4 linked regions of the Homo sapiens genome follow. The protein of the gene in region 2 purifies or fractionates together with the protein of the main gene of each other region. This does not show direct contact. Each region holds a gene or a part of one and is shown on either strand. Other genes may lie near its edges. The genes, in order: TNPO2, CA14, THADA and IQCB1.

Region 1 (7,000 bases), on a different chromosome or scaffold from region 2:
GGTAGGAGGATTGCTTCAGCTGGGAGGTCAAGGCTGCAGTGAGCCATGATTTTGACACTCCACTCCAGCGTGGATGACAGAGCAAAACCTTGTCTCAAAATAAAAAAGAAAAAAATGATTTGGAGAGAGGCAAGCAATCCAAGTTTGTCAAGGAGGGTCAGTTTTAGGACTTTTGTTGGAAACACTGGTCGAAAATTTCTTTACTCTGAAGTTCCTAAGCTGGAAGGGCACAGAAGGCTACAGCACTACCCAGAGGGAAGGTTGTGCCTAAGAATGAAGCCAACACAAGGGAAGCAGATCTGAGACCACAAAGATGCCTTTCACATCCTTTGAGCTCCTGGATACAGCCATACCCCTGAAGCCTTTGTTGATTTTTCATTTCTTTTTTTTTTTTTTTTGAGACGGAGTTTTGCTCTGTCACCCAGGCTGGAGTGCAGTGGCACGACCTTGGCTCACTACAACCTCAGCCTCCTGGGTTCAAGCAATTCTCCTGCCTCACCCTCCCAAGCAGCTGGGACTACAGGCGCCTGCCACCACGCCCAGCTATTTTTTTATATTTTTAGTAGAAATGGGGTTTCACCGTGTTAGCCAGGCTGGTCTCGATCTTCTGACCTTGTGATCTGCCCGCCTCGGCCTCCCAAAGTGCTAGGATTACAGGTGTCAGCCACCACATGTGGCCATTGATTTTTCATTTCTTTCCACCTATCAGTTACCTAATTTTGAAGTCTTCAAAAAGTGGCATTCTTACCACTTACACATAAATATATACTGAATGTAAACTGACAAGGATGTGGACTGAGAGAAGCACAGCAGGTGACCAGAAGGGAAGGCAGAGGCATAGCAAGGGGTCGAAGCTGGGGTAGGACAGTGGGCAGCAGCAGCACTCACTGGACCAGATGGGAGGCCAGGACTTCCTTGCAGATGGGCTGCTCGGCCAGCGTCAGCCAGAACTCACAGGCCTCAAGGGCAACGTTCTCATCATGGTCCTGGGTCCTCTGCAGCATGTACTGTGGTAGGGGGGAGAAGCTGAGGCCTGGCCTGGCTGGGGGTGGCTCCCTGACCCCTGCCACCGGCCCCCTGCCTGCCCGCCTGGGCTGGCCTTGACCATGCACACCTGGATGATGCTGTGCATGTGGGGGATGAGCCTGTCAATCCGCACTTCCAGAAGCATCACCAGGGCACGGCACACATTCTTCCGCACCTCGGGGTCATCATCCACAGCCAGGGCAAATAGGTGCTGCAGGGAGGAACAGGGTCAGTTGTAGGGGCCCTCAGTCCTCGCCCTGCCCACCCCCAGCCCAGCGGCCCACCTCGATGAAGGTGTCAATATTGTCCATCAGCGCCTGGGCCCGGTCCATGATGAACTGGTTCACGCAGGCGATGGCGTGGGACCTGGCGGGGAGCAGACACGTGGGTCACCCTGACCCTGCCCACTCCAGGCTCCCTGGAAGCCCCCAGGGAGCTGCACCCACCGGATCTTGGGACTGCAGTGCTTGAAGAACTGCAGGAACTTGGGGATCATGATGTTGAGGGGCCTGTTGAGGGCGTCACTGTCCAGAAGCTCTGATGAGTCTTCACAGATCTTCTGCAGGGCTCCAAAGGCTCCCTGAGTGCAGAGGGGCAGAGAGACAAACGTGGGTGGTGGGTGGTGGTCCCAGCCCCCCAGTACTCGCTCTGGCCATCCATGGCTTCTTGCCTACCTCACAAGTGTTGTAATCCTCCGAGTTAAGCAGGTTGCAGAGCTGGGGCAGCAGCTCGGGCCACATCTGCAGCTCACCCTTGGAAGCGATGGTGGTGATGAGAATGCCTGGGGCGGCCGGGAAAGGACGCTGCCTGAGGCTGGGCAGGGGCTGCCTAGCACCTCCCCCTCCCACTGGACACCCCCAGTGCTGCCTTTCTGTTCCCTAGCCCATGTACGCCCTCTACATCCCCCCTCCTTTTTTTTTTCTTTGTAAGAGATAGAATTAGCTCTGTTGCCCAGGCTGGACTGCTGTGGCACAATCAATAGTCCACAGCAGCCTCAAACTCCTGGCCTCAAGCCATCTTCCTGCCTCAGCCTCCTAAGTAGCTGGGACTGCAGGCACATGCCACCACGCCCAACTAATTTTTAAAATTGTTTGTAGAGATGGGATCTCACTATGTTGCCCAGGCTGGCCTAAAACTCCTGGCCTCAAGCAATCCTCCTGCCTTGGCCTCCAAAAGCACTGAGATTACAGGCGTGAGCCACCGCTCCTGGCCTTGACATAGGTAGAAGGGTACTCCTTGACTCAGTAGGCACCCTGAGCCTTACTGTGAGTCAACTCTGTTCCAGGCCCTGAGGCACAGCACAGAGCAAAACACAAAATCCTCACCCTTGGGAGCTGGAAGCAAGCTATGAAGTAAAGATAAATTAGCAAAAAAAACTGGGAGGGGCCGTGCATGGGTGGCTCATGCCTGTAATCCCAGCACTTTGGGGGACCGAGGTGGGTGGATCACTTGAGGTCAGGAGTTCGAAACCAGCCTGGCCAACATGGTGAAACCCCATCTCTACTAAAAATACAAAAATTAGCTGGGTGTGGTGGGGGGCACCAGTAATCCCAGCTACTTGGGAGGCCGAGGCAGGAGAATCACTTGAACCTGGGAGGCAGAGGTTGCAGTGAGCAGAGATCGCGCCACAGCACTCCAGCCTGGGATGGAGCAAGACTCCATTTCAAAAACAAACAAAACAAAAACAAACAACTGGGAGGGGCCACATGCCAAGGACTAAGGGGGGAAATACAGCAGAAAAGATGGTGAGAAAGGGCTGTAGGTGAAGGTAGCAACTTTAAATTGGGTGGCCAGAGCAGGCCTCGTTGAGGTGACATCTTGATATCTGAGCCAAGGCCTGAAGGAGGTGAAGGAGGCGAGGGAGGAATCATCCAGGTTTCTGGGGAAAGGGCATCTGAGGCAGGGGACTCTATGGTGCAAAGGCCTGGCGTAAGGACAGGCATGATGAGAGAGGGAAAGGAGGTAAGGGCAGGAAGGTGGCAGGGATGCTTGTACTGCCTATTAGATATCCAGGAGTTACATACAGCAGGCATCTGAGGTGCCAGGACAGTGCACATATCTGGTGACAGAGCTGGATATGGGTTCTGTTAAGTGCAGAGATGGTATTTGCTGCCATGAGATGGCAGTGTTTCCCAAGGGTGGAAACTCAACGAGAGAAAGGTGCTCCCTGCAATGGGTAGGTACACAGTGAGGATTGTGGAACTTTAGCCACACCCCCTCATTCTGTGTGCCTCAGTGCTTCCAGCCCTCAGAAGAGATAAAGAAAACCAGCCTCCTAACTAAGGTTATCAGTAGGTTTCTTTTTCTCTCTTTTTTTTTTTTTTTTTTTTTGAGATGGAGTCTCACTCTGTAGTCCAGGCTGGAGTGCAGTGGCACAATCTTGGCTCACTGCAACCTCCACCTCCCGAGTTCAGGTAATTCCCCTGCCTCAGCCTCTGAAGCAGCTGGGATTACAGGTGCCCGCTGCCACACTCAGCAAATTTTTGTATTTTTAGTAGAGATAGAGTTTCACCATGTTGGCCAGGCTGGTCTCGAACTCCTGACCTCAGGTGATCCACCTGCCTCAGCCTCCCAAGGTGCTGGGATTAGAGGCGTGAGCCACTGTGCTCAGCCTGGATCAGTAAGTTTCAATGACTTAGCAAAGAGCCTGGCACATAGAATGAGCTCAGGAAGTCCACATCCTACTACTGGCCTGGGAGGGGGTTTTTGCAGGACTAAAAGTTACTTTTTATTTTTGAGATGGAATCTCAGTCTGTTGCCCAGGATAGAGTACAGTGGCATTATCTTGGCTTACTGCAACCTCTGCCTCCCGGGCTCAAGCAATTCTCCTGCCTCAGCCTCTCGAGTAGCTGGGATTACAGGTGCCCACCAGCTGTAATTCCCAAGTAATTTTTTGTATTTTCAGTAGAAACGGAATTTCACCATGTAGGCCAGGCTAGTCTCCAACTCCTGATCTCAAGTGATCCGCCTGCCTTGGCCTCCCAAAGTGCTAGGACTATAGGCGTGAGTTACCACACCCAGCCAGAAGTCATTTTTTTTGTTTTTATTTTATTTAGTTTTTTTTGAGATGGAGTCTTGCTCTGTTGCCCAGGCTGGAGTGTAGTGCCGCAATCTCGGCTCACTGCAACCTCTGCCTCCTGGGTTCAAGCAATTCTCCTGCCTCAGCCTCCTGAGTAGCTGGGATTATAGATGTTCACCACCACGCCCAGCTAATTTTTTTTTTTTTGAGATGGAGTCTCGTTGTATTGCCAGGCTGGAGTGCAGTGGCGCCATCTCGCCTCACTGTAACCTCCAACTCCTGGGTTCAAGTGATTCTCCTGCCTCAGCCTCCCGAGTAGCTGGGACCACAGGCGAGTGCCACCACGCCCAGCTAATTTTTTCTATTTTTAGTAGAGATGGGGTTTCACCACATTGGCCAGGATGGTCTTGATTTCCTGACCTTGTGATCCGCCCACCTCAGCCTCCCAAAATGCTGGGATTACAGGTGTGAGCCACCATGCCTGGCCAGCTAAGTTTTTTGTATTTTAAGTAGAGACGGGGTTTCACCATGTTGGCCAGGCTGGTATTGAACTCAACCTCTGGTGATTTGCCTACCCTGACCTCCCAAAGTTGCTGGGATTACAGGCGTGAGCCTATTCTTAGTCATCTTTCTGTAACTTCCTCAGGCCACCTTCCAAGAGTCAGAAAAGGCTCTGCTGAAAACCTAATTCCGTTGCACCTGAAACATGAATACCTGCATTATTTTAACTGCTATACCCTTAGCACTCAGCCCAAGGCCGAACACAAAATTCTAGATGTTGCATGACTGTCTCAGAGCCAAGAAGGACTGTTTCAGGAGGGAGTGGTTCCAGAGCGTGGCCCTGCACTGCCTCAGCTGTTTCTGACTTCTGCTGCTTACCCAGACAGGTCCCTTAATAGCTCAGCGCCTCAGCTTCCTCATCTATCAAATGGCAATAGTAATAGTACTACCATAGAGGGTGCCAGAGCATTCCATGAAGCACTACACTTAACATGCTGAGAAGTGAGAGTTCAGTGTGTCCTCAGAGGCCAACCCCCGCTGCCCCTCTCACCAATGGTGGCTCGGATGAGCGAGGAGGCATCGCCAATGTTGTTGAGACACTCCTGTTTGATGAAGTCTGCCACAGGGGGTGGGAAGCTCTGATAGTGTGCCTTCACGTTGTTCTTGAGGATGAGGCCACTGAGAGAGCGCGTTGGCTCATCTGGGAGGAGGAAGGCTGAGGTTCAGGGGCCCAGGGGGAGAAAGCAGGGTCCCGATCGCATGGAAGGGAGCAGAGGGCGTACCTTCTGACTTGAGTCTGGTCAGGACGAAAATCAGGTAGTTGTTGAAGTCAGGAAACTGATTGAGTTGTTTGAGTTTCTGCCAGGCTGTTAAGGGACTTGGAAGACAGAGGCCTTCCCCCAGCCAGGTCCCCTCATTATGTACCTGACACTATCTCTGACCACTGGGACCAGGCTGCCAGCTCCTGGGGGATCCCGCTCCCTAATAAGCCCACAATGACACAGAGCACCTCAGACACGTCAAATTCATATAAGGGGCCGGGCGCGGTGGCTCACGCCTGTAATCCCAGCACTTTTTGGGAGGTCAAGGCGGGTGGATCACAAGGTCAGGAGTTCGAGACTAGCCTGGCCAGCGTGGTGAAACCCCATCTCTACTAAACATACAAAAAAATTATCCGGGCATGATGTGTGCGTGCCTCTATTCCCAACTACTTGGGAGGCTGACGCAGGGGAATCGCTTGAACCCAGCAGGTGAAGGTTGCAGTGAGCCGAGATTGCGCCTCTGCATTCCAGTCTGGGCGACAGAGCAAGACTCCATCTTGAAAAAAAAAAAAATCATACAAGGAGTTGGGTGGAAATGTCTGAGTTTCCCATCCACTCCTGAAGACCCAGCCAGAGCAGGAGAGGGAAGGAGAATCCCACTCCTCTTAAAGTGGCAGCTACTAGTCAGCGATCCCCACTAACAGGCCATGAAGACTTTTTTTTTTTTTTTAAAAGAGGGAATCCAAATTTTGGGGTGAGTCATGCTCATGGTTTAAATATTTATTTATTTATTTTCAGACAGAGTCTCACTCTGTCACTTAGGCTGGAGTGCAGTGGCACGATCTCCGCTCACTGCAACCTCCGCCTCCCAGGTTCAAGCGATTCTCCTGCCTCAGCCTCCCAATTAGCTGAGATTACAGGCTTCTGCCACCACACCTGGCTTAATTTTTGTATTTTTAGTAGAGACAGGGTTTCTCCATGTTGGCCAGGCTGGTCTCAAAACTCCTGACCTCAGGTGATCCGTCCGCCTCGGCCTCCCAAAGTGCTGGGATTGCAGGCGTGAACCACCGCGCCTGGCCTATATATCTTTTCTTTGAGACAGGGTCTGGCTCTGTCGCCCAGGGTGGCTGGAGTACAGTGGCACAATCTCAGCTCACCACAACCTCTACCTCCTGGGCTCTAGCCATCCTCCCACCTCATCCTCCCAAGTAGCTGGGACTACATGTGCATGCCACCACACCTAGCTATTTTTTGTATTTTTTGTAGAGATGGGGTCTCCCTATGTTGCCCAGGCTGGTCTCAAACTCCTGGGCCCAAGCGATCTACCTGCTTCGGCCTACCAAAGTGCTCCGATTACAGGCATGAGCCACCCCGTTGGGCCAGGGCCTACTTTAATAGTTAATGGAGTAGATGCTAGCGTTCGATGAACATTAGGAATTTTCATCATTTTCTATAACAATCCCCGCAGCTCTGGAAATGGGACCCAGGAATTGTAATCCTTCTCTGTCCAGGGCAGATCCTCCGCACAGCAGAAAAAATCTGGGGACTAGGGGAGTCAGTCCCTCTCTTTCTCTCTCTGGCCTTTGGAAACTGCACGCATCTACCCGGCTCCCCCAGCCCCGGAAGGAAGGAAGGATACATCCTGCACGATGCGCTGAGTGGCTGTGTTGGGCGACTGTGAGTCTTTGAGCAG
Region 2 (7,685 bases):
AAGACCAACCTAGGCAATATGGTGAAACCTTGTCTCTACAAAAAAATTAAAAAATTAGCTGGGAGTGGTGGCATGAACCTGTAGTCTCAGGTGCTTGGGAGCTGAGGTGGGAGGATCGCTTGAGCCCAGGAAGGGAAGGCTGCAGTGAGCCAAGATCACGCCACTGCACTCCAACCTGGACAACAGAGCCATGCCGTCTCAAAAGAAAAGAAAGTAAAAGAAAAACAGCCCGGCAGTTTTTTTACAAAGTTAAACATACGCTTCCCGTACAATCCAGCACTCAGTATCTATTTATTCCCACTCCTAGGTATTTACTCAAGAACAATAAAAACATATGTCTGCTCAAAGACCTGTACTCAAATACTTATAGTGCTTTTATTCATGGTGACTAGAAAGAAGTGGCTGCGGTGGCTCATGCTTATAATCTCAGCACTTTGGGAGGCCAAGCTGGGCAAATCACTCGAGCCCAGGAGTTCGAGACCAGCCTGGGAAACATGACAAAATTTTGTCTCTACAAAAACTAAGAAAATTTTTAAAACCTGCCAGTCATGGTGGCATGCGCATGTAGACCTAGCTACTCAGGAGGCTGAGAAGAGGATCATTTGAGTTTGAGGCTGAAGTGAGCTATGATTCTGCCACTGCACTCCAGCCTAGGGGACAGAGTGAGACCCTGCTTCCAAAAAAAAAGAGAGAGGCTGGGCGTGGTGGCTCACACCTGTAATCCCAGCACTTTGGGAGGCTGAGGCAGGCAGATCACCTGAGGTAGGGAGTTCAAGACTAGCCTGATCAACATGGAGAAACCCCGTCTCTACTAAAAATACCAAATTAGCCGGGCGTGGTGGCAAATGCCTGTAATCCCAGCTACTTGGGAGGCTGAGGCACGAGAATCACTTGAACCTGGGAGGCAGAGTTTACGGTGAGCCAAGATCATGCCATTGCACTGCAGCTTGGGCAACAGAGTGAGACTCTGTTTTTTTTTTTTTTTTGAGATGGAGTCTCGCTCTGTTGCCCGGGCTAGAGTGCAATGGCGCTATCTCGGCTCACTGCAAACTCCTCCTCCTGGGTTCAAGCGGTTCTCCTGCCTCAGCCTCCCGAGTAGCTGGGACTACAGGCGTGAGCCACCGCGCCCAGCTGAGACTGTACAAAAAAAAGAAGAGAGAGAGAGAGAGAGAAAGAGAAATGCTAATTTCTCTAATGCCAAATCTCTAATGTAGATTTGGACACACCCAGAACTATAGAATCGGGTACTATGGGGGTGAGGTCCAGAAATCTCTATTTATTTATTCTATTTTATCTTTGAGATAGAGTTTTGCTCTTGTCACCCAGGCTGGAGTGCGGTGGTGCAGTCTCGGCTCACCGCAACCTCTGCCTCCCAAGTTCAAGCGATTCTCCTGCCTTAGCCTCCCAAGTAGCTGGGATTACAGGCACCCGCTACCACACCTGGCTAATTTTTTTGTATTTTTGGTGGAGATGGGGTTTCGCCATATTAGCCAGGCTGGTCTCAAATTCCTGACCTCAGGTGATCTGCCCGCCTCGGCCTCTCAAAGTGCTGGGATTACAGACATGAGCCACTGCACCTGGCCAGAAATCTGTATTTTAATAAGCTTTCCAAGTTTAAAAAGCTTTCCAGGTGATTCTGATGCACATTGACATTTGAGAACCAATGGTGTAGGAGAAAGCTCACTGGTGCCTGTGTCCTTGTTCTGGTTTAGCCTAGCAGCTATATGACTAACCATGGCTAAATCCCTAAATCTCTCAAAACTCAGTTTTACAGGGTATAACAAGGGGTTTAGAATGATGCCTGAGGGCCCTTCTGCTCTAAAATTCTGTGAAAGACAGTAAATAAATGTTGCAATTACTAGATTCATTCAATCAACAGTTATGTACCAGGCAGCGTTCTGTTCATGGAATCAATGTATAACACAAAATTGCAACTGAAATAGTGTAACTTATCGCTTATAATTAAATGACTTGCAAATTTTCAGACCACAAACTTTTACCGGTCCTCAATTTACAAGATTCTCATACTACATTTGTTGTGTAATGTGAACTGGAAAACTAAGAAAATGATCCAAAGGGTCATTTTTTCCAAAATTACTTAATTCTTTTTTGTTTGTTTGTTTTTTCTTTTTTGTTTTTGTGACAGAGTCTCACTCTGTCACCCAGGCTGGAGTGCAGTGGAGCAATCTCAACTCACTGCAACCTCCCACTCCCGAGTTCAAGCAATTCTCCTGCCTCAGCCTCCTGCGTAGCTGGGATTACAGGCATGCACCACCACGCCTGGCTAATTTTTGTATTTTTAGTAGAGACGAGGTTTTGCTATGCTTTGGCCAGGCTGGTCTGGAACTCCTGGCCCACCTGCCTCGGCCTCCCAAAGTGCTGGCATTACAGGCGTGAGCCACCACGCCTCATCTCAGTCAAGTTTCAGTATATCTACAAGGACAGGAGATGGCGCCAGAAGGCAGTGAGATGCTTGGTTTTGGTTTTAACGGTTTTAGCCAATGCAAGCAAGGAAAGGGCTTGAGAGAGAGGTCAGAACTAAAACAAAGGTGCCAGAGTTTGAGTGGAAACTAAGACTGAGTGGGGAGAGGGAGCTGTGTCAGTTTTTTTTTTTTTAACTTACATATAAGGGTCCCCTTGACACCTACTCCAAATCAGCACAGCTAGAAAGCAACAAAAGAAATATCCACAGTAAAGCCAAAGATCAAGATAAAGTCAAGTGCCTGGAGGACGGCGCTCGCCTTCTGGCTCCCTCTGTCCTAGAAAGGAGGGCCTTTGTCGTCTGGGAAGCATAAGCACCTGGATGCGTTGCTCACCCAAGATCAGGGAAGTGTTGATTCCAGGCTAAGATATCTTTGTGAAACAATGTTCAGTTGCGTAGGCAAAATCCCAAAGCCCAGCAGCAGTGAAATACCTCCCAGAAGGAACCACATACACAAAGCATTTTAAATTAAAATTTAAAAATTCATAGACGAGCCAGGAGGTGGCGCCTGGCAAGACACGCTATCTGCCTTGGAAATCGGAATCTCAGCTCAGCGCTCCAGGGGAACTCTGTTCCGGCAGAGGTCATTCTGTTCAGACCTCTTCTTTCCTACTAAATCTCTTCTTTCATACCAAGATGTCTCTGCTTTCTTTTTTTGTTTCTTTGTGTTAAGTACCCTGATTCCCGGGAAATCTAATTTATACTTCAAGTCTTTTACTCTTCTTAGATGGGATGGATGGGGCTTTGGGGAACCTCAAAACATAAAACTTTCCTGAAGGGGACAAATAACTCAGAGGGTGATAGGAGAAGAAAAAGGGAAATGACATCAGCAAAATGGCTTGGCTTTGCAGATCAATCACAGGGGATAGAAAGGCACAGTGAGCTCCTGTCTCTGCAGGAGCTGATGATCCAGCACATGCATTATTCTGTTCATTTGGCTTTTATCCTGCTCCCTTATTTAGCTTCTGCTCCCTTTGTTTGGCTATTTATTGCTACTCGGCAGGAGCAAGGAGGGCAGAGGGAGCTTCAGATGGGTGCATCCTCCTGGCTGGTGCCTCTGGTGAAGAGCATGGAGGAGAAAGAGGTTTCAATGTCTGGCTTGAAAGTATCTGTGGGTTTCACATTCTCTAACGAGGGATTTAGGATGTACATTCCAATCGGGATTTCCAGTCCCGTGGGGAGCAAACATCAGTTCACATTCCTGAGACGTGCAGCCTCCATGCTCCACGGACGCAGCTCCTTGGTGGCAGGTTTCATTCAGTGCCACATGTCCTGCCTCAGCCCTTTGTTGGGCTGGAAGGAAGACCCTGAGCCCCTCTTCCATCTGGATCACATGGTCTCTCCAGACCCTCCCCTCTCTTTCTCTGGAAACCACCTTTTTCTGATGGTGGTAGTGATTGTTCCTAAAGTCTCTCCTTTCCTCCTGCCCTGGCCTCTCTGCCGGAGGTCAGTGTCCTCTTCAGTGACAAAAGCCGCCCTAGATCTGGGCTCCCTGGAGAGGGAGGTGGCTGGGTCTGGCAGTTACAGCCGCTGTCTCTCCATGGTGCTGCTACACCCCTCCCCCACTGGGCATACAAATGGGCTTTATCCAGCAAACAACGCTCCCTCCCCGCACTCCCCCCACCCCAGGCCACACAGGCACGTGGACCCAGGCCTCACCGTGGGAAGGGGGTGGTGGCAGGCACAGAAGAGATTGCTCCAGATGAGTTCTCCTTGCCTCACTTCTCTTCCTTAGAACTTAGGACACAACTCAGGTTTTAGTTATTGACTTCCTCCACCCCTCCCCTGCACCCTGAGTCCCTAATTCCTTCTTGTTATATATCTCCTAATTCTGGACTCTTCCCATTCCAGGGCAGCTCAGATTATGCAGGGAATTGGGAACAGGTACCCCCACCATCTGCCGCATACCACCCAGGGAGCTGCTCCTCAGAGGAGAAATCAGGCGGGGGGATGAAAATACAGTGTCCTTTTGAGGGGGCTGAGTTGAACCCCAAAGCCCCTTCCTTGACCCTGCCTGCTCCAGGGAACACCCATCTAAACAGCATCTGTGTGACTAGCAGAGGAAGGAAGAGCTCACCCCAGCTGGGCTCCTGAGCCAGGGCCAGGGCTCCAGTGAAACTTGCCGCGCTCCAGCTCCGAGTGGGGCCATCCTGCATGCCTAATTGGCTATTTAAGGAGCTGTTCACCAGCAGCCCAGGCAGCACCCCCGTCCCCACATACACCAGTTCAGAGCCACCTTAAAAGCAGGAGGCAGTTGTAAAGTCGCTGGCCAGCTAGTGGAGTGGAGACTGCAGAGGGAGATAAAGAGAGAGGGCAAAGAGGCAGCAAGAGATTTGTCCTGGGGATCCAGAAACCCATGATACCCTACTGAACACCGAATCCCCTGGAAGCCCACAGAGACAGAGACAGCAAGAGAAGCAGAGATAAATACACTCACGCCAGGAGCTCGCTCGCTCTCTCTCTCTCTCTCTCACTCCTCCCTCCCTCTCTCTCTGCCTGTCCTAGTCCTCTAGTCCTCAAATTCCCAGTCCCCTGCACCCCTTCCTGGGACACTATGTTGTTCTCCGCCCTCCTGCTGGAGGTGATTTGGATCCTGGCTGCAGATGGGGGTAGGTACAACTAAATGTCTGTGTGTGGATTTGTGCTGATGTTCACATGTCGCCAGGTGTGCTTAATGGGGGGAGGAGAGGTGTGAAAGGAAGCCTAGAGGCTGGAATAATAGGCTCAGAGATGAGGAAAAAAGAGTGGGGTGTGGAGGAGACCACTTCCCTTCTTTACCTTTTGTCTCTCCAGCCTTGTTGTTATTGGAGGTCGGGGAGAACTAGCGGCAGGCAGGCAGAGTGTGTACACATGCAAGTGCTGGAATCTCTTTGCAGGCTACAGATTTTCTCCAGAGCTCTTTCCCCCACTGCCCTGGTCCCAGGCAGGACTCCTGGACTTCTTTATTTACAAACTCCTCCAAATAGGGAGTCAAAGAGGCCTGGAGTAAAAAGATGGATAGATGGGGGTAGGGGGAAGAATACTTCCTGCCCAACTCAGACCCTGATCTCCAATTCATCCCCTTTTGGCCAAGATTCCCTCTTCATTCTGTGGAGCGACTAACTCCCCAGTTATCCTCTGAAAGTGGCAGTAAGAGTCAACATTTGTTTGACATTTTACAGTTTACAAAGGACTTTCAGGAGCTCCCAGGAGATGAGGAGGGATTCTTGGGAGAACAGGCTGAAGCGCTCCAGGAGTGTCCCCAGGAACTCCTAGACCTCATTTTTGTGTTTCCTGTGCCTAGCACAGTGTCCAGCACATACTAGGTGTGTAACTGAGGTTTGTGGAAAGAGCAGGGTGAGGTGGGTGTCCAGAGAGCAGAAGGCAAATGCAGAGAGGATGGGGGCAGGCAGGCAGCCAAATGGAGAGTCACAAATCTCATCTGAGGAGAAAGAAAAAAAGAGGGAAAGAGGAGGAAGAGACAGAATAAGTGTGTTGAGGCTCTGACCAGAGTGGACAGGCACCTTTACAGACCAGGGAGTTTGAGTTGTTGGGGGGTCCCACAGATATGGTAAAATGAGAGGCTGCCTCCAGCTCTCCCTTGGGCTAGCAGAATAGGTCAAGGATAAGAGCAGGACATCTCACAAGTTTGAGGAATTTAAGGGAATAAGAGACAGAGAGAGGAAGGAATTTAGGATTTTTCTCCAGAGTTTCTAGTAGTATGAATATTGCAGCATAAACCATGAAGGCCTTCGTTTTCTTCTTGAGGCAGTTTGGCCGTAGGGAGGGGCTGGACCTGCAGACCCTCAGCCTTTGCGTCAGACAGGACTGCACGAGAGCCTGGCATGTGACCCAGCTGGCAGCTCTCTTCTCTACACACAATGCTTCACTTTCATCCTGTCCCTGCCAGCCTGGCTGCCTGTGCCCACCCACCACCCTCAATCTAGAGTAGACCCTGCCCTGACTCCCACCCTTCCCTAACCATCTCAGAATGTAGGGAGCAGAGCCTCCTGGTGATGAGGAGTTTCCTCTAGAGCTAATGGGACCAGAAAAGAAGAATTTACATATGAGTTTACAGCTCAGTGGCTTTATTCATGCAATTTTTTAAAGCAAAGGAATAATCTCCCCTTCTCCCCTCAGTAGCACCCCCCAACACACACACACTCTAAACTCCTTTCTCCTCCCCGCTTTCTAGTCCCTATCCTTCCAACCCTCTGCCCACACCCTCACCCCACCCACCCCAATCTTCTAAGTGTTAGATTGACTTGGCACAGGTTACAGAAAAGAAAGGGTTGGGCCAATCGCACATTTGGATCCAGGTTAATTTTAGTCTCTGGGCTTTACCTCTTTTCCTTCCTCCTCCCCTTTTACTCGGCAGGCACCAACACAGCCTGGCTGGTGATTTTAAATAGGCCCCCCGACCTTTCCACAGAGGTGTCCGGTTTCAGGGCTTCCTTTGCAAAGTGCTGGAGCAGAGGGAGGAGAGACTGCAGAGAGGGAGGTGGAGCAGTACAGAATGCCAGAGGGAGGGGAGTGTGGAGGCCAGGGTTCTGCCCCAGGCTGCGCTGGCTGTAACCCAAACTATTCTGCCTTGCAGGTCAACACTGGACGTATGAGGGTGAGCAGATCTCAAGGCCTCCCGACAACCCTTTCACACTGGGACCTCCTCACCTGGCAGGAAGACACACTGTGCGGGTGGGAGGAGACTTCCTTTACCTTCTCACCCTAGCTCCTCCCTTCTGGATCTCCTCCTGCCTTGAGTTTCACATATATGGCTCCTAGATCCTGCTCTAATCATCAAATCCTACACCTCCTGATTTGGCAGAAAAGCTAGTTAAGTCCTCAGTAAATCGTGTAGGAGTGAGGGAGCTGGGGTGGAAAGGAAGCTGGGTGGGAACTCTGAGCTTAGCTGCCAGGTCTCCTTCTGGCTCCGTCTATCCTAATCCATCCTACCCCTAACCTGCATCTGAAATTGGGACAGAGCTGGAGGTCAGGGGTGAGGAAGAGGCTGGCAGGATAGTTTCTGACCCTGGGGGAGGTGGAACTCAGTTCCTATGAACTACTGATTAATGACTTAACCAAACTCAAGTTCATGATAAACGGTCAGTGTGAGAGCAAGAAGTGAATGATGAGAAGTCAGGATATCTGAATCCCAAGGCCACTTGATAGGGGCCTCCAGGAGACCGTATCTCTCTAGGTTATTTTTTTTTTTTTTTTTTTTTTT
Region 3 (7,031 bases), on a different chromosome or scaffold from region 2:
TGTGTGCAAGTTCATTACATAATGACTGATGGGACCATACATCTTACCAAGGTTGCACAGGAGGTTTTGGGGGCAAACCTTTCATTGGAAGCAATATCCATCGTCCAGATCAAGAACTCCTTTGGGGTCAGATGGACACAGTGCTCCGTCTGGGGAAGCCACTCACCAGGGTCCATGCAGTGGAGAATTTTCAGTATCTGTGTAAGCCAAATCCGCACACAAAAAAGAGAAATAAATACTCAGGGAGATGTCTCTAGATGTTACATGATAATCAATTGTATCAACAAGAGGTCTACCTTTCAAAAGGCTCCCACTGACTTCTTATTTCCCCCATAATACCTTTGGGAGACTGAGGCAGAGTGATGCAATGACTAACCAGAGGGCCTCTAGTGACTTGGGATGGGAGCCAGATGCCCTGATTTTAGGCCAGTGCCCTTTCCTTTTGATTATGCTTCCCAGGTGGCCAACTGCCCTGAAATAGCCATGTCAGCAAAGACTACCTCTGACACACTCTACAGTGAATTTTTAATGATCTGTTTCCTAAACATCCCAAAGTGGTTTGCTCTGTCTTTGGTTAATCTCTGCCATCAATACTCCTATCATCAAAAGCTTTTCTTGGTGCCCTACCAGGTATGACGCCATGCCAACCACCATAAAAAGAGAGTCCTTATCCACTGGCTGCCGAATCTACTTCCTATTGCCCCTGGAGAGCCTAAACCCAATCTTGCCTTCATGATCCTACCATTCCAGTGGCTCACAAAAGAATGTGGGGAGTGTAAAGGGCCAGTCAGTACGTTGGAGACTTTACCTTGCAGAAGCATTCTGGGTGATTTTCCTTCATGGCCAACAATAAGAACTTCTCTCCCATGTTGCACAGCAAGGGTGGCACGCCCTTCTCTCCAAGTCCAGAGGCTGCTGCTAAGAACTTTTCCAAGAGGGCTTCCAGTGTTAGTGAGCGCACTTCAGGGAAGGCAGATTCTAACAGCTGAGAGAAAGAGATGGGGACATTCGTCTCCCGCTCTCCACTCTTGGCTGCCGCGGCCCACACTGCAGCAATGGCTAGTCTGGTGAGGCTCTGGAGGTACTGGGGCAGGCCTGGCACCTTGAAGGCCCAAGGGAATCCCGTTATCAGCTCTGATCCTGAGATAATCCCTCTGACTTCCTCCCAGAAGCCAAGACTCTCCAGAACTAAGAAGCAAAAAAAGCAAAAGGGAAAGAGATAATCACTTTAAATTTCCACAAAAGGACATGAAAGAATGAAGACTGAATCCACTGCGTGAGGCCATCAGATGTCTCCCATAAGCAGATTTCAAACACTGTCATAAGTGAGTGGCCCTCTAAGGTTCAGACTTCTAGTCCACAACAATTTCCATTTAGGTAATGTATAATTTTTCCAACAGGGGCACAAAGGCATTACTATTAGAAAATGCGTTCCTGGCACCCCTCCTCAACATTCAATAAATACGAACTCAGTGACCTCTTATCACCGAGCCTCAAAGCTGACCATGAGAAGAGGACATCTAGTATAAACTTCCTTCAGGGGTGAAGCTCCCCTCTGTAACACCCTTTCCCAGAAGCTCTTGGTTGAACCCTACAGTACCCTGGAGCTCATGAGACAGCTTATTCCATTGTTAGTAGATCTAATTGTCAAAAAGTTCTTTTTGTGTTTCTACTCACTGGCCTAATGCTACATTTTGAGGCTCCCAATGACAGCTCTTTAGACATTTGATTACAATTCTTGTGTCCCCTCTGTCTTCTCCAGATGAAACATTCCTACTTCCTTCCTCAAATGATGGGGTCACTGTCTCTCATTATTCTAGCTGCTTTCCTGTGGACATGCCTCACCCTCTCTTAAAGGATGGCCAATAGGCTGGATCACAAATCTCCTGCATGGTTTGACCCGCAGGACTATTACTTTCTCTGTTCTGAACTGGAGTTGCATCACACTGTTGACTCATATGGAGCACAAAGTCAACTGAAACCACAGCCCTTCTTTTTTGACGTGGTCTACTGATGGTGGTGAGTCATCTTTCTCCCACTTTGTACTCAGTACTTAAGCCAAGATGTGTTTTCTTTGTTTATTTTAAGCCCAAGTATATCCCTGTTAAATTTTATCCTCCTGTTAAGTTTTATGGTCTACCTTTCATTTGCCGAGATCTTTTCATATTCTCAGTTCTGATTAAAAAAATAAAAAAACCAAAAACTTATTGCCTGCTTACTATGTGCTAGGAGCTAAATAAGATCACTGCCCTTAAGGAGTTTATAGTCAGTCTAGTTTGAGAAAGAGAAATGCATGAACACATAATTCCAATATAGTGGTACAAATGATAACCTAGGCCTCAAAGAGGAAGACAGGTGACAATGTGTTAGCACCACCAAAGGCAGGGGAACCAGCTGAGCAAAGGCTCAACAAAGGCATGAAACAGAACGGACCATGTGGGGAACTACAGGCCATCCCATAACACTGGAGCATAAAATTTGAGGTGGGAAAGGGCAGGAGATGAGGCTAGGGAAGAAATGTGGCTAGAGTACAGAAAGCCTCCTAGACAATGTGAAGCAGCTAGTTCTGTATGCAACGGAATGCCACTGGGGGGTTATTTTAAGCAGTAAGGTCAGGGGCCCATTTTCACTGAAGTGCTCTTATCGTTGAGGAGGCAATATTAGAGGCAGGGAGACCAGTTACAACACTACTGCACCGTAGTCCAGGAGAGAAATAAATGACGAGGGCCTTAAGTTCAGAAGGAATCAGGAGAAGGTGGGTTTAAGAAACGCTGAAGGTCTGAAGCCAAGGTGATCATTTAAAAAGGCAAAAAAGAAAGAAAAAAAAACACTGAAGGGATAAAACTGGCAGGACTAGGGAATGAGGGTGCGGACTAGGGTAGGAGTCTCGGGTACCTCCCAGCACCCAGTTCTTCACACATGTTCATCATCTAATAGAAATTGGGTAAACCAGCTGGGCGTGGTGGCTCATGCCTGTAATCCCAACATTTTGGGAGCCCAAGGTGGGAGGACTGCTTGAGCCCAGGAGTTTGAGACCAGCCTGGACAACACTGTGAAAATCTATTTCTACAAAAAATAAAAAGTCAGCTGGGTGGGGGATCACTTGAGCCCAGGAGGTTGAGGATGCAGTGAGCCAGGATGCTGACACTGCATTCCAGCCTGGGCGACAAAGTGAGACCCTATCTCAAAAACGCATACAAAGTAGTTGGCAAACTTCAATTTCACAGGAATGCCTAAATGCCCAAAATCAAATAATTACTAAAAATGTGGGCAAGCTGGAGGGTGGAGGCCTTTGGTGAGCAGGCTCCCTGCTGGCCCTTGCCTCAAACGCTCTTCCAGGCTCTCACTAATTCATTAACTAGCCCTCTTCGGTTTGAGTCATCCCCCACTTATGAATCCTCTTAATTGTATCATTCTGTCCATGAAGTTTTATCTACAAGAACTTATGACAGACTTCACCAAATGCCTTGCCAAAATTTAGATATTATATTCATAGCATTCTCTGATAAATCCTGACAACTGTACCCAAGATGTTAACAAGTTTATCCTGGATTGGCTTACCAGACAGCATTTAAGTGATACGCATTTATAGCTAATAAAACACCGTTTATATTTATCATCTCATTATAACTCAGAGAACTCTGCTGACTTCTAGAAAACTAACATAAACATAATGCATATGTAAAACATTCAGGTAACAGAAAAATTTATTTGAAATTGAAAATTTGCATAGACTTGCAATAATTCGAGATTTAAAAATATAGAGTATTTATGTAACACATCAAATTGTTTCAAAGTCTGTCACAGGGGGCAAAATGGGGACTGGACTTGGGCTCCAACATGATGGGACCCCAGGGAGGCCACCATCTGGGGCTGCAGACAAACCTCTACTGTTTTTTTTTTTTTTTTTTTGAGATGGAGTCTCGCTCTGTCGCCCAGGCAGGAGTGCAGTGGTGCGATCTCGGCTCACTGCAACCTCCACCTCCAGGGTTCAAGTGATTCTCCTGCCTCAGCCTCCTGAGTAGCTGGGATTACAGGAGCATGCCACCACGCCTGGCTAATTTTTGTATATTTAGTAGAGACAGGGTTTTGCCATGCTGGACAGGCTGGTTTCGAACTCCTGACCTCGTGATCTGCTCGCCTCAGCCTCCCAAAGTGCTGGGATTACAGCGTGAGCCACCGTGCCCGGCCATACCGCTACTCTTAACTCAGACACTGCAGAATTCCCAGCTCACCAGGAGGCATCTTTTTATTTTTTTATTTTTTTGGAGACAGAATCTCCCTCGGTCACCCAGGCTGGAGTGCAGTGGCACAATATTGGCTCACTGCAACCTTCGCCTCCCCGGTACAAGTAATTCTCCTGTCTCAGCCTCCAGAGTAGCTGGAAATACAGGCACACGCCACCACACCCAGCTAATTTTTGTATTTTTAGTAGAGACAGGGTTTCACCATGTTGCCCAGGCTGGTCTCAAACTCCTGACCTCAGGTGATCTGCCCGCCTCGGCCTCCCAAAGTGCTGGGATTACAGGTGGGAGCCACTGAGCCCAGCCAGGCAGTATCTTTATAAAGCAGTGGGGGAAACCCTGGGCAGCTGGGATCTTCAACCTCTGTGTCATCTCTGTTTCAATGTCTAAAAACCGAATCTCATAACAATCTAATAATAATAAGAGCACAGTACTATCATCTCCAGGTACCATTTCCCTATCCTTCCTACCCACTGCTGCTAGAGGACAGCATTACATTCAAAAGGAATTTCATTTATTTGGCACAGTCAGAAATATGGCTCAGAAATCTGCTCTTAAAATTGTAATTAACGGCCGCCCGGGAGGCAGCGGCTGGAGGAGCGGACGGGCCCCGCGGGGCCCGAGGGCAAGGAGCAGCCGCCTGCCTTGGCCTCCCAAAGTGCCGAGATTGCAGCCTCTGCCCGGCCGCCACCCCGTCTGGGAAGTGAGGAGTGTCTCTGCCTGGCCGCCCATCGTCTGGGATGTGAGGAGCCCCTCTGCCTGGCTGCCCAGTCTGGAAAGTGAGGAGCGTCTCCGCCCGGCCGCCATCCCATCTAGGAAGTGAGGAGCGCCTCTTCCCAGCCGCCATCACATCTAGGAAGTGAGGAGCGTCTCTGCCCGGCCGCCCATCGTCTGAGATGTGGGGAGCGCCTCTGCCCCGCCGCCCCATCTGGGATGTGAGGAGCGCCTCTGCCCGGCCGAGACCCCGTCTGGGAGGTGAGGAGCGTCTCTGCCCGGCCACCCCGTCTGAGAAGTGAGGAGACCCTCTGCCTGGCAACCACCCCGTCTGAGAAGTGAGGAGCCCCTCCGCCCGGCAGCTGCCCCGTCTGAGAAGTGAGGAGCCTCTCTGCCCGGCAGCCACCCCATCTGGGAAGTGAGGAGCGTCTCCGCCCGGCAGCCACCCCGTCCGGGAGGGAGGTGGGGGGGGGTCAGCCCCCCGCCCGGCCAGCCGCCCCATCCGGGAGGGAGGTGGGCGGTCAGCCCCCCCGCCCGGCCAGCCGTGCCGTCCGGGAGGGAGGTGGGGGGGTCAGCCCCCCGCCTGGCCAGCCGTGCCGTCCGGGAGGGAGGTGGGGGGGTCAGCCCCCCGCCCGGCCAGCCCCCCCGTCCGGGAGGTGAGGGGCGCCTCTGCCCAGCCACCCCTACTGGGAAGTGAGGAGCCCCTCAGCCCGGCCAGCCACCCCGTCCGGGAGGGAGGTGGGGGGGTCGGCCCCCCGCCCGGCCAGCCGCCCCGTCCGGGAGGGAGGTGGGGGGGTCGGCCCCCCGCCCGGCCAGCCGCCCCGTCCGGGAGGGAGGTGGGGGGGGATCAGCCCCCCCGCCCGGCCAGCCGCCCCGTCCGGGAGGTGAGGGGCGCCTCTGCCCGGCCGCCCCTACTGGGAAGTGAGGAGCCCCTCTGCCCGGCCAGCCGCCATCCGGGAGGGAGGTGGGGGGGTCAGCCCCCCGCCCGGCCAGCCGCCCCGTCCGGGAGGGAGTGTGGGGGGGGTCAGCCCCCCGGCCCGGCCAGCCGCCCCGGCCGCCCCTACTGGGAAGTGAGGAGCCCCTCTGCCCGGCCACCACCCCGTCTGGGAGGTGTGCCCAACAGCTCATTGAGAACGGGCCAGGATGACAATGGCGGCTTTGTGGAATAGAAAGGCGGGAAAGGTGGGGAAAAGATTGAGAAATCGGATGGTTGCCGTGTCTGTGTAGAAAGAAGTAGACATGGGAGACTTTTCATTTTGTTCTGCACTAAGAAAAATTCCTCTGCCTTGGGATCCTGTTGATCTGTGACCTTACCCCCAACCCTGTGCTCTCTGAAACATGTGCTGTGTCCACTCAGGGTTAAATGGATTAAGGGCGGTGCAAGATGTGCTTTGTTAAACAGATGCTTGAAGGCAGCATGCTCGTTAAGAGTCATCACCACTCCCTAATCTCAAGTAATCAGGGACACAAACACTGCGGAAGGCCGCAGGGTCCTCTGCCTAGGAAAACCAGAGACCTTTGTTCACTTGTTTATCTGCTGACCTTCCCTCCACTGTTGTCCCATGACCCTGCCAAATCCCCCTCTGTGAGAAACACCCAAGAATTATCAATAAAAAAAAAATTAAAAAAAAAAAATTGTAATTAACAACAGGAAGAACTATCTGGGCTGTTCTGGATATAGTCCAGGCTGAGTGTAAGTATAGTCTGCTGGACTTGAGAGTTGGACACCCAGACCCATTTTTCTGGTCTGGGGCCTTAAGAAGGGATGATATCACCAGGAAGCCAGGGAATGAAGGCACTACCCCAAAGAAGGAGGAGATGGGGAGCAAGCATGCTGATGAGTGTAATGAAGGTAGACATTCCTTTGGGACTTCTTGACCTACACTGCCTGTGACTTGAGTATTAACTCTTTAAGTATTTCCTAAGCATATACAGGTTGAGCATCTCTAATCTGAAAATCTGAAATCCAAAATGCTCTAAGATCGGAAACTTTTTACGTGTTGAAATGGTGCCATAAGTGGAAAATTCCACACCTGACCTAATGCAGTCAACACACAGATGCAGTTTATTCAG
Region 4 (6,831 bases), on a different chromosome or scaffold from region 2:
TATCCCAGTTTACATGGTTGGCTTGAGTCCTCAGCTATCTAATGGGCTCAAGAAAAATTATTGTTCTAGATTATCTGGCATTTTCTTTGCTAAATTGGGAGCAACACTCTTACATAATTTTTCTACATTTCTTTTCCAATTATAAGTACAAATATAGGAATTTTGATTAGAATTTTACTAAAGTTAACATTAGAGATTGCGCAATATTATACAATTTGGTCTTTACATCCAGAAATACTGGTATTTTCACTCATTTTACAAAGAGCATCTTCCAGATTCTTTATGATATGGAGTCATGATTTGTTAATTGATTTTAACTTAAATTCCATATTGTTACAAACACAAATTGAAGTGGCTTCAATGTTATGGTATTAAAACATATTTAAAGTAAACAGGGAAACTGAAAAGTATTAGGTTGGAACCAAATAATCATAAAGGTACCTAGGATTGTAACAAAAATTAAACATTATATTTAGCTTTGAGATTCCTAGGAGAAAAGACAAAAAGGGAAACAGTACATTATGTAGTTCTCACAGTTTAATAGAAAGAATGCATTTTTTTGGTATGCAGTTCCTTTTAGAAATAACAAAATAGAAAATGAGTTCAACCATTGCTTTATAGAAAACAGGGAAATGTCCTTCAATTGAGCATTTCTTTTCCTCACATTAATAAAGTCTGCACACACCTCCTATGTTAACAGGAAATAGGAATTTCAGATAACAAATGTGAAAAGTTGAAATAATCCTGACAAATTTTTCAAATCAATTGTTGAAAATATTTATTTAGAAAAAAATATTTAGTTGGAAAACAGAAGAAACCAAAGAAAAACACACTTCATGTAAACAACAGAACACTATGCTAAGTTTAGTTCTACAATAAAAGCCACACAAATCTGTGTGTGGCTAACGATGAGGATACAGAGAAAAGAAAAAGAAAATTGAGAGAGAGGTAGAATATAACTCTTTGCTTACTGCAGGTCTTGTCTGGAGGAGAACCTCTGGAAAATAATAAGTTAGGATGGCCCTAGTCTACCAGCATGCCAGAGGCAGAACCAATATAATCTCCTAAAATATGAGATTTGTGTCAATTCTTAGGGTTACTCACTAAGGTGGTTTGGTTCCACCAATGAATAAATTTTCTAATTCTATACTAAGCTCATCCTTTGGAACATCAATCTCATCTCCAGATTCTTCTCCAAGCTTCTTCCACCAGGGTGCTTGTATGTGCTTCAGGGTTGTGAGATGGGCCTGCTTGGCCTTGGCTGCCACAGGCCTGGATCTACTTAGGAAGAGCTCAGGTTCTTTCCCTTCTGCCTCCTTCAGACTTGGTGCCTCTGTAGTGGACAGAAAATAAACAGATGAGCAGAAGAGTCCTATGCCAAGCAGGTAGGAACTTGGAAGCTACAGAGCTGTAACTCTGCAGGCAGAAACAGCATTCCAACTCTGAATGTACTACTTTTGAGAAAGGGTCTTGCTCTATTGCCTAAGCTGGAGTGCAGTAGCAAGATCACGGCTCACTGCAGCCTCAACCTCCTGGGCTCAAGTGATTCTCCCACCTCAGCTTCCTAAGTACCTGGGACTATGCCACCACACCCAGCTAATGTTTTTTCTTTTTTTGTAGAGATCTCACTATGCTGCCCAGGCTGGTCTCAAACTCCTGGACTCAAGCAATCCTTCTGCCTCAGCTTCCCTAAGTGTTGGGATTACAGCCATGTGTCAACATATTCAGCCCATTTCTGTTTTTTTTTGAGACAGAGTTTTGCTCTTGTTGCCCAGGCTGGAATGCCATGGCACGATCTCGGCTCACTGCAACCTCCGCCTCCTGGGTTCAAGCAATTCTCCTACCTCAGCCTCCTGAGTAGCTGGGATTACAGGCGTGCGCCACCATGCCCAGCTAATTTTGTATTTTTAGTAGAGACGGGCGTTTCACCATGTTGGTCAGGCTGGTCTCGAACTCCTGACCTCAGATGATCCACCTACCTCGGCCTCCCAAAATGTTGGGATTACAGGCGTGAGCCACCGTGCCCGGCCATTTCTGTGTTTAAAGGAATTTAAAAAGATGTAGATTTTTGTAAGATGGCTTATTTATTTATATTATTATTTTTTGAGACAAAGTCTCACTCTGTCACCTAGGCTGGAGTGCAGTAGCGCGATCTCTGCTTACTACAACCTCCGCCTCCCGGGTTCAAGCAATTCTCCTGCCTCAGCCTCCTGAGTAGCTGGGATTACAGGCACCCGCCACCATGCCCAGCTAATTTTTGTATTTTCAGTAGAGATGGGGTTTCACCATGTTGGTCATGCTGGTCTCGAACTCCTGACCTCGTGATCCGCCCACTTCGGCCTCCCAAAGTGCTGGGATTAGAGGCATGAGCCACCTCACCCAGCCAAGATGGTTTATTTAAAGAATAGAAACTTTAATAGAACCTCATCCTATAGATGAGAGGCTCAGTTTCAGCCATTTATCCAATTTAAGAATATAAAATTACCAAGTAGTGGCCATTAAATAGAAAACACTGGTCCTTTCTGTTTACATATACTAAAGAAATCCAAGATGCTGACTGAAACACAGGGGCTTCATGGATGGGATCTCTCATTAAATGGATCAGTGGTTATGATGAATTCATTTTTGTAAAGTGCTTCATTAAAAATTATAGGCTAGGCACGGTGGCTCACGCCTATAATCCCAGCACTTTGGGAGGCCGAGGTAGGCAGGTCACAAGGTCAAGAGATCGAGACCATCCTGGCCAACATGGTGAAACTCCGTCTCTACTAAAACTACAAAAATTAGCTGGGCGTGGTGGTGCGCACCTGTAGTCCCAGCTACTCGGGGAGGCTGAGGCAGGAGAATCGCTTGAACGTGGGAGGCGGAGGTTGCAGTGAGCCAAGATCACACCACTGCACTCCAGCCTGGCAACAGAGCAAGACTCCGTCTCAAAATAATAATAAAAAAAAATTTATAAAATGCTCTACAAGTGAATGGCACTGTAACTATTGTCATCATCTACTTACAAAATATGACCAAAAGCTTTTCAGATTACTTAGTAAAAGATGGCTAGTAGGGCTCAGCATCTGAAATTAATAACTTTGGGGTGACACATATGAATGATGGCAAGGCTTGGGGAAACAGGTAAGAAGGTGGTTATAAAATCCGCATCATTTGAAAACATTGTGTGCTGGTCTGATCTATGTAGAAATTTCCTGAGGTTAGGGGATGAGCTAAAGATGCTTAGTAATGGTTTCCTTCTAAAGGTTTTGGATGTCACAAACCTCGCATAGGTTGTTCCTTTTAGAGAACGAAAGTAAAATGAGCACATACTCATTAGCTGTTCAACGTTGGTGCTGATCTGTGCTATCAGAGCTTCTCTGTGCTGCTGGGCTCGCTCTTCTAGGGCCCTGCCCATAAAGTAGTGTTGCAGTCGTTCTTGAGCTTGGGCATGGAGCTCCCTACTGACCACATCTGACATTGGAGAGCCCTGGAAACACAGGACAGAAAAACCTGTCACAGAGAGGACATAGGTATCAAAGTACCCAACCACTTAGCAGAGGTTTTAGACTGCTTAGCTGTCTCTCATTTTATCAATTGAATCTTATGATTGATGTCTATCTTGTACTCTTATGCAAGTATTAATTAGTCTCTTAAAAGTTTTAGATAAAAATAATGGTGGAGAAGTTTTTTGTCTTTCTTTTTTGTATGTGCCTATACTTTACTTTCTCAGACACTGTGGAATTATGGGAGAAGAGATAAGCTTGAGAGATCACAGTGAAAAATTACAAATGGTTTCGTAAAGACACTGGCCTGGGGCCGGGTGTGGTGGCTCACGCCTGTAATCCCAGCACTCTGGGAGGCCAAGGTGGGTGGATCACCTGAGGTCAGGAGTTCAAGACCAGCCTGGCCAACACGGTGAAAACCCATCTCTACAAAAATTAGCCAGGCATGATGGTGGGTGCCTGTAATCCCAGCTACTCGGGAGGCTGAGGCGGGAGAATTACTTGAACCTGGGAGGCAGAGTTTGCAATGAGCCGAGATTGCGCCATTGCTCTCCAGCCTAGGCAACAGAGCAAGACTCTGCCTTAAAAAAAAAAAAAAAAAAAAAAAGACACTGGCCTATAACAGGTGTAACAACGCCAATCCCTTTGTTTCTTTGTTTTACTTCTTATCCCATTCTCACTCCCAAACTTATCCAAGCCATATGTTGTAACTGCTTCTGGATCCACAGAACAAGGGACAAAATCATCCAAAGGACCATGTTCTTTTGGCTAGTCAGCTAATTTAAGGGGAACTTAACTGATTAGTTTGGGCAAGGATGAAATAATCTTAACTTTGGAGGTGATAAAGAACCTGACACCACAGCTTTCTCAAATATTCCTGTTCCTATCCTGGATATGACCCTGTTCCACTAAAACCTTACTTCTCAGCCACAGGATCTTAAACAGCTGCACTAGAGTATGGCTAAAGAAGCACTTTAAAAAAAGAAAAACAGGAGCATGCATCAGAACTACATATAGTGTATTAGAAAAAGAGAGATCAAAGACCTAAACATAAGAGCTAAAACTGTAAAACTCCTAGAAGAAAACACAGGAAAAGCATCATGACATTGGTTTTGGTGATGATTTCTTCATACGACACCAAAGCACAGGAAAAAAAAAACAACAACAAAAACCAGACAAAATGAACTTCATCAAAATTAAAAACCTTGGTGCACCAAAGATCACTATCAAGAAAGTTAACTGGCAGTCCACAGAATGGCATAAAATGTTTGCAAATCATACATCTAAGGGATTAATCTCCATAATATATAAAGAACTCCCAAAACTCTACAAAAAACAACCTGATTAAAAAATGAACAAAATATAACCCTGTGGAAAAAAAAATAAACAAATGACTTGAACAGACATTTCTGCAAAAAAGATAAAGAAACGGCCAATAAACACATGAAAAGATGCTCAAAATCACTAATTAGGAAAGTGCAAGTTCAAACCATAAGATACAACTTCATATCTATTAGCTGCTATCAAAAACAATGACTACAACAAAAATAACTAATGTTGACAAGGATGTACAGAAACTGGAACCCTGTGTGTGACTGGTAGAAATGTAAAATGGTACAGCCACTATGGAAAACAGTATGGCAGTTCCTCAAAAAAATTTTTAAAAAGAATTAGCACACAATCTAGCATTTCCATTTCGGATACTCACCCAAAAGAATTGAAAGCAAGTACACACACAGATATTTGTACACACATGGTCACAGTAGCATTATTCACAATAGCCAAAGGGTGGACGGAACCCAAGTGTTCCTTGGATAAACAAAATGTAGTATATATAATGGAATATTATTCAGCCTTTAAAAGTAGAAAATTCCGACATATGCTAAAACATGAACCTTGAAGACATTATACTAACTGAAACAATGAAGTATGATTCTACTCATGAGGTACTTAGAGTAGGCAAATTCATGGAGACAGAAAGTAGAATGGTGGTTGCCAGAAGCTGGGTAGTGAGGGAATGGTGAGTTAGTGTTTAAAGGATGCAGAGTTTCCATTCTGCAAGATGAAAAAAGTTCTGAAGATGGGATGGTGGTGAAGCTTGCACAAACAATATGAATGTACTTAATGCTACCAAACTACATTTAAACATAGTTAAAATGGTAATTTTTATATTTTATCTATTTTACCACCCTGAAAATAAATAAATTTTAAAAATACAGATACATGAGGCCACACAAAACTTACTGTATCAGAATTTCTTGGGGTGTGTGGGGCTTGGGTATGTAATTTTTATAAAGGTGATTAAATTTGTAAATGATTAAAACTGTTAAAAGCAATATAGTCCTCTCTACAGAGCTTAGGAACTGATTATCTGTTTGTTGGAGAGGAGGCATGCTTCTGTCTGTCTTCATTCTACCTCTGCTCACAGGAAAAATCTTTCAGTTGTGGTTCTGCCCCTCTCTCCAACTCGGTTCTGGTGTTTGGCTAAGGGAGGAGTTGCTAATATGATTGATCAGCACTTAAGAGATTCACTGGCCATATACACCATGGAATACTATGCAGCCATAAAAAAGGATGAGTTTATGTCCTTTGCAGAGACATGGATGAAGCTGGAAACCATCATTCTCAGCAAACTAATACAAGAACAGAAAACCAAACACTGCATGTTCTCAACCATAAGTGGAAGTTGAACAATGAGAACACGTGGACGCAGGGAGGGGAACATCACACACTGGGGCCTATCGTGGGGTAGGGAACTAAGGGAGGGATAGCATTAGGAGAAAAACCTAATGTAGATGACAGGTTGATGGGTCCCAAACCACCCATGGCACATGTATACCTATGTAACAAACCTGCATGTTCTGCACATGTATCCCAGAACTTAAAGTATAATAATAATTAAAAAGAAGAGATTCATTGGCCATGTTTTATTGGTGGCCAGGCTGATTATTTTTAAAATCTCAGGACCCCTAAATTTTTTTTTAAGCATTTAGGTTAAAACAACCTTTTAAAAAATATAGCTTTATTGACGTAAAAATAACATACACTAAACAACAAATATTGAAAGGGTACAATTTGCTAAGCTTTGACATACACATACCTAGTTCATCACTACGTTTCCTTGTTTCCTTTTGTAAACCCTTATCCTCATCCTACCCATCCACCAACTACTTATCCCAAGCAACTACTTATCTATTTAATGTTACTATAGATTGGTTTATATTTTTAGAATTTACATAAAGGGAATCATAAAGAATGTATTCTACTCTGTCTGGCTTCTTTCATTTAGCATAATTATTTTGAGATTCATCCACGTTTTTTTTTCTTTTTCTTTAAAAATTTT

What was found.
Region 1: the proteins of CA14 (region 2) and TNPO2 purify together in Homo sapiens (affinity purification with mass spectrometry; 3 studies listed by BioGRID and IntAct, with this or other methods). This does not show direct contact.
Region 3: the proteins of CA14 (region 2) and THADA purify together in Homo sapiens (affinity purification with mass spectrometry; 3 studies listed by BioGRID and IntAct, with this or other methods). This does not show direct contact.
Region 4: the proteins of CA14 (region 2) and IQCB1 purify together in Homo sapiens (affinity purification with mass spectrometry; 3 studies listed by BioGRID and IntAct, with this or other methods). This does not show direct contact.

Annotation. Positions count from the first base shown.
Region 1 is NC_000019.10:12,713,933-12,720,932, forward strand, and holds part of TNPO2 (transportin-2), read right to left. Parts: coding exon 6,947-7,000; intron 5,405-6,946; coding exon 5,329-5,404; intron 5,247-5,328; coding exon 5,097-5,246; intron 1,808-5,096; coding exon 1,701-1,807; intron 1,607-1,700; coding exon 1,473-1,606; intron 1,393-1,472; coding exon 1,311-1,392; intron 1,238-1,310; coding exon 1,115-1,237; intron 1,008-1,114; coding exon 889-1,007; intron 1-888. UniProt on the Homo sapiens protein: Probably functions in nuclear protein import as nuclear transport receptor. Serves as receptor for nuclear localization signals (NLS) in cargo substrates.
Region 2 is NC_000001.11:150,253,093-150,260,777, forward strand, and holds the start of CA14 (carbonic anhydrase 14 precursor), read left to right. Parts: upstream 1-4,681; 5' UTR 4,682-5,036; coding exon 5,037-5,091; intron 5,092-7,058; coding exon 7,059-7,079; coding exon of another isoform or gene 7,080-7,156; intron 7,157-7,685. UniProt on the Homo sapiens protein: Reversible hydration of carbon dioxide.
Region 3 is NC_000002.12:43,292,026-43,299,056, forward strand, and holds part of THADA (tRNA (32-2'-O)-methyltransferase regulator THADA), read right to left. Parts: intron 1,189-7,031; coding exon 809-1,188; intron 198-808; coding exon 79-197; intron 1-78. UniProt on the Homo sapiens protein: Together with methyltransferase FTSJ1, methylates the 2'-O-ribose of nucleotides at position 32 of the anticodon loop of substrate tRNAs.
Region 4 is NC_000003.12:121,769,242-121,776,072, forward strand, and holds the end of IQCB1 (IQ calmodulin-binding motif-containing protein 1), read right to left. Parts: intron 3,473-6,831; coding exon 3,316-3,472; intron 1,334-3,315; coding exon 1,104-1,333; 3' UTR 520-1,103; downstream 1-519. UniProt on the Homo sapiens protein: Involved in ciliogenesis. The function in an early step in cilia formation depends on its association with CEP290/NPHP6.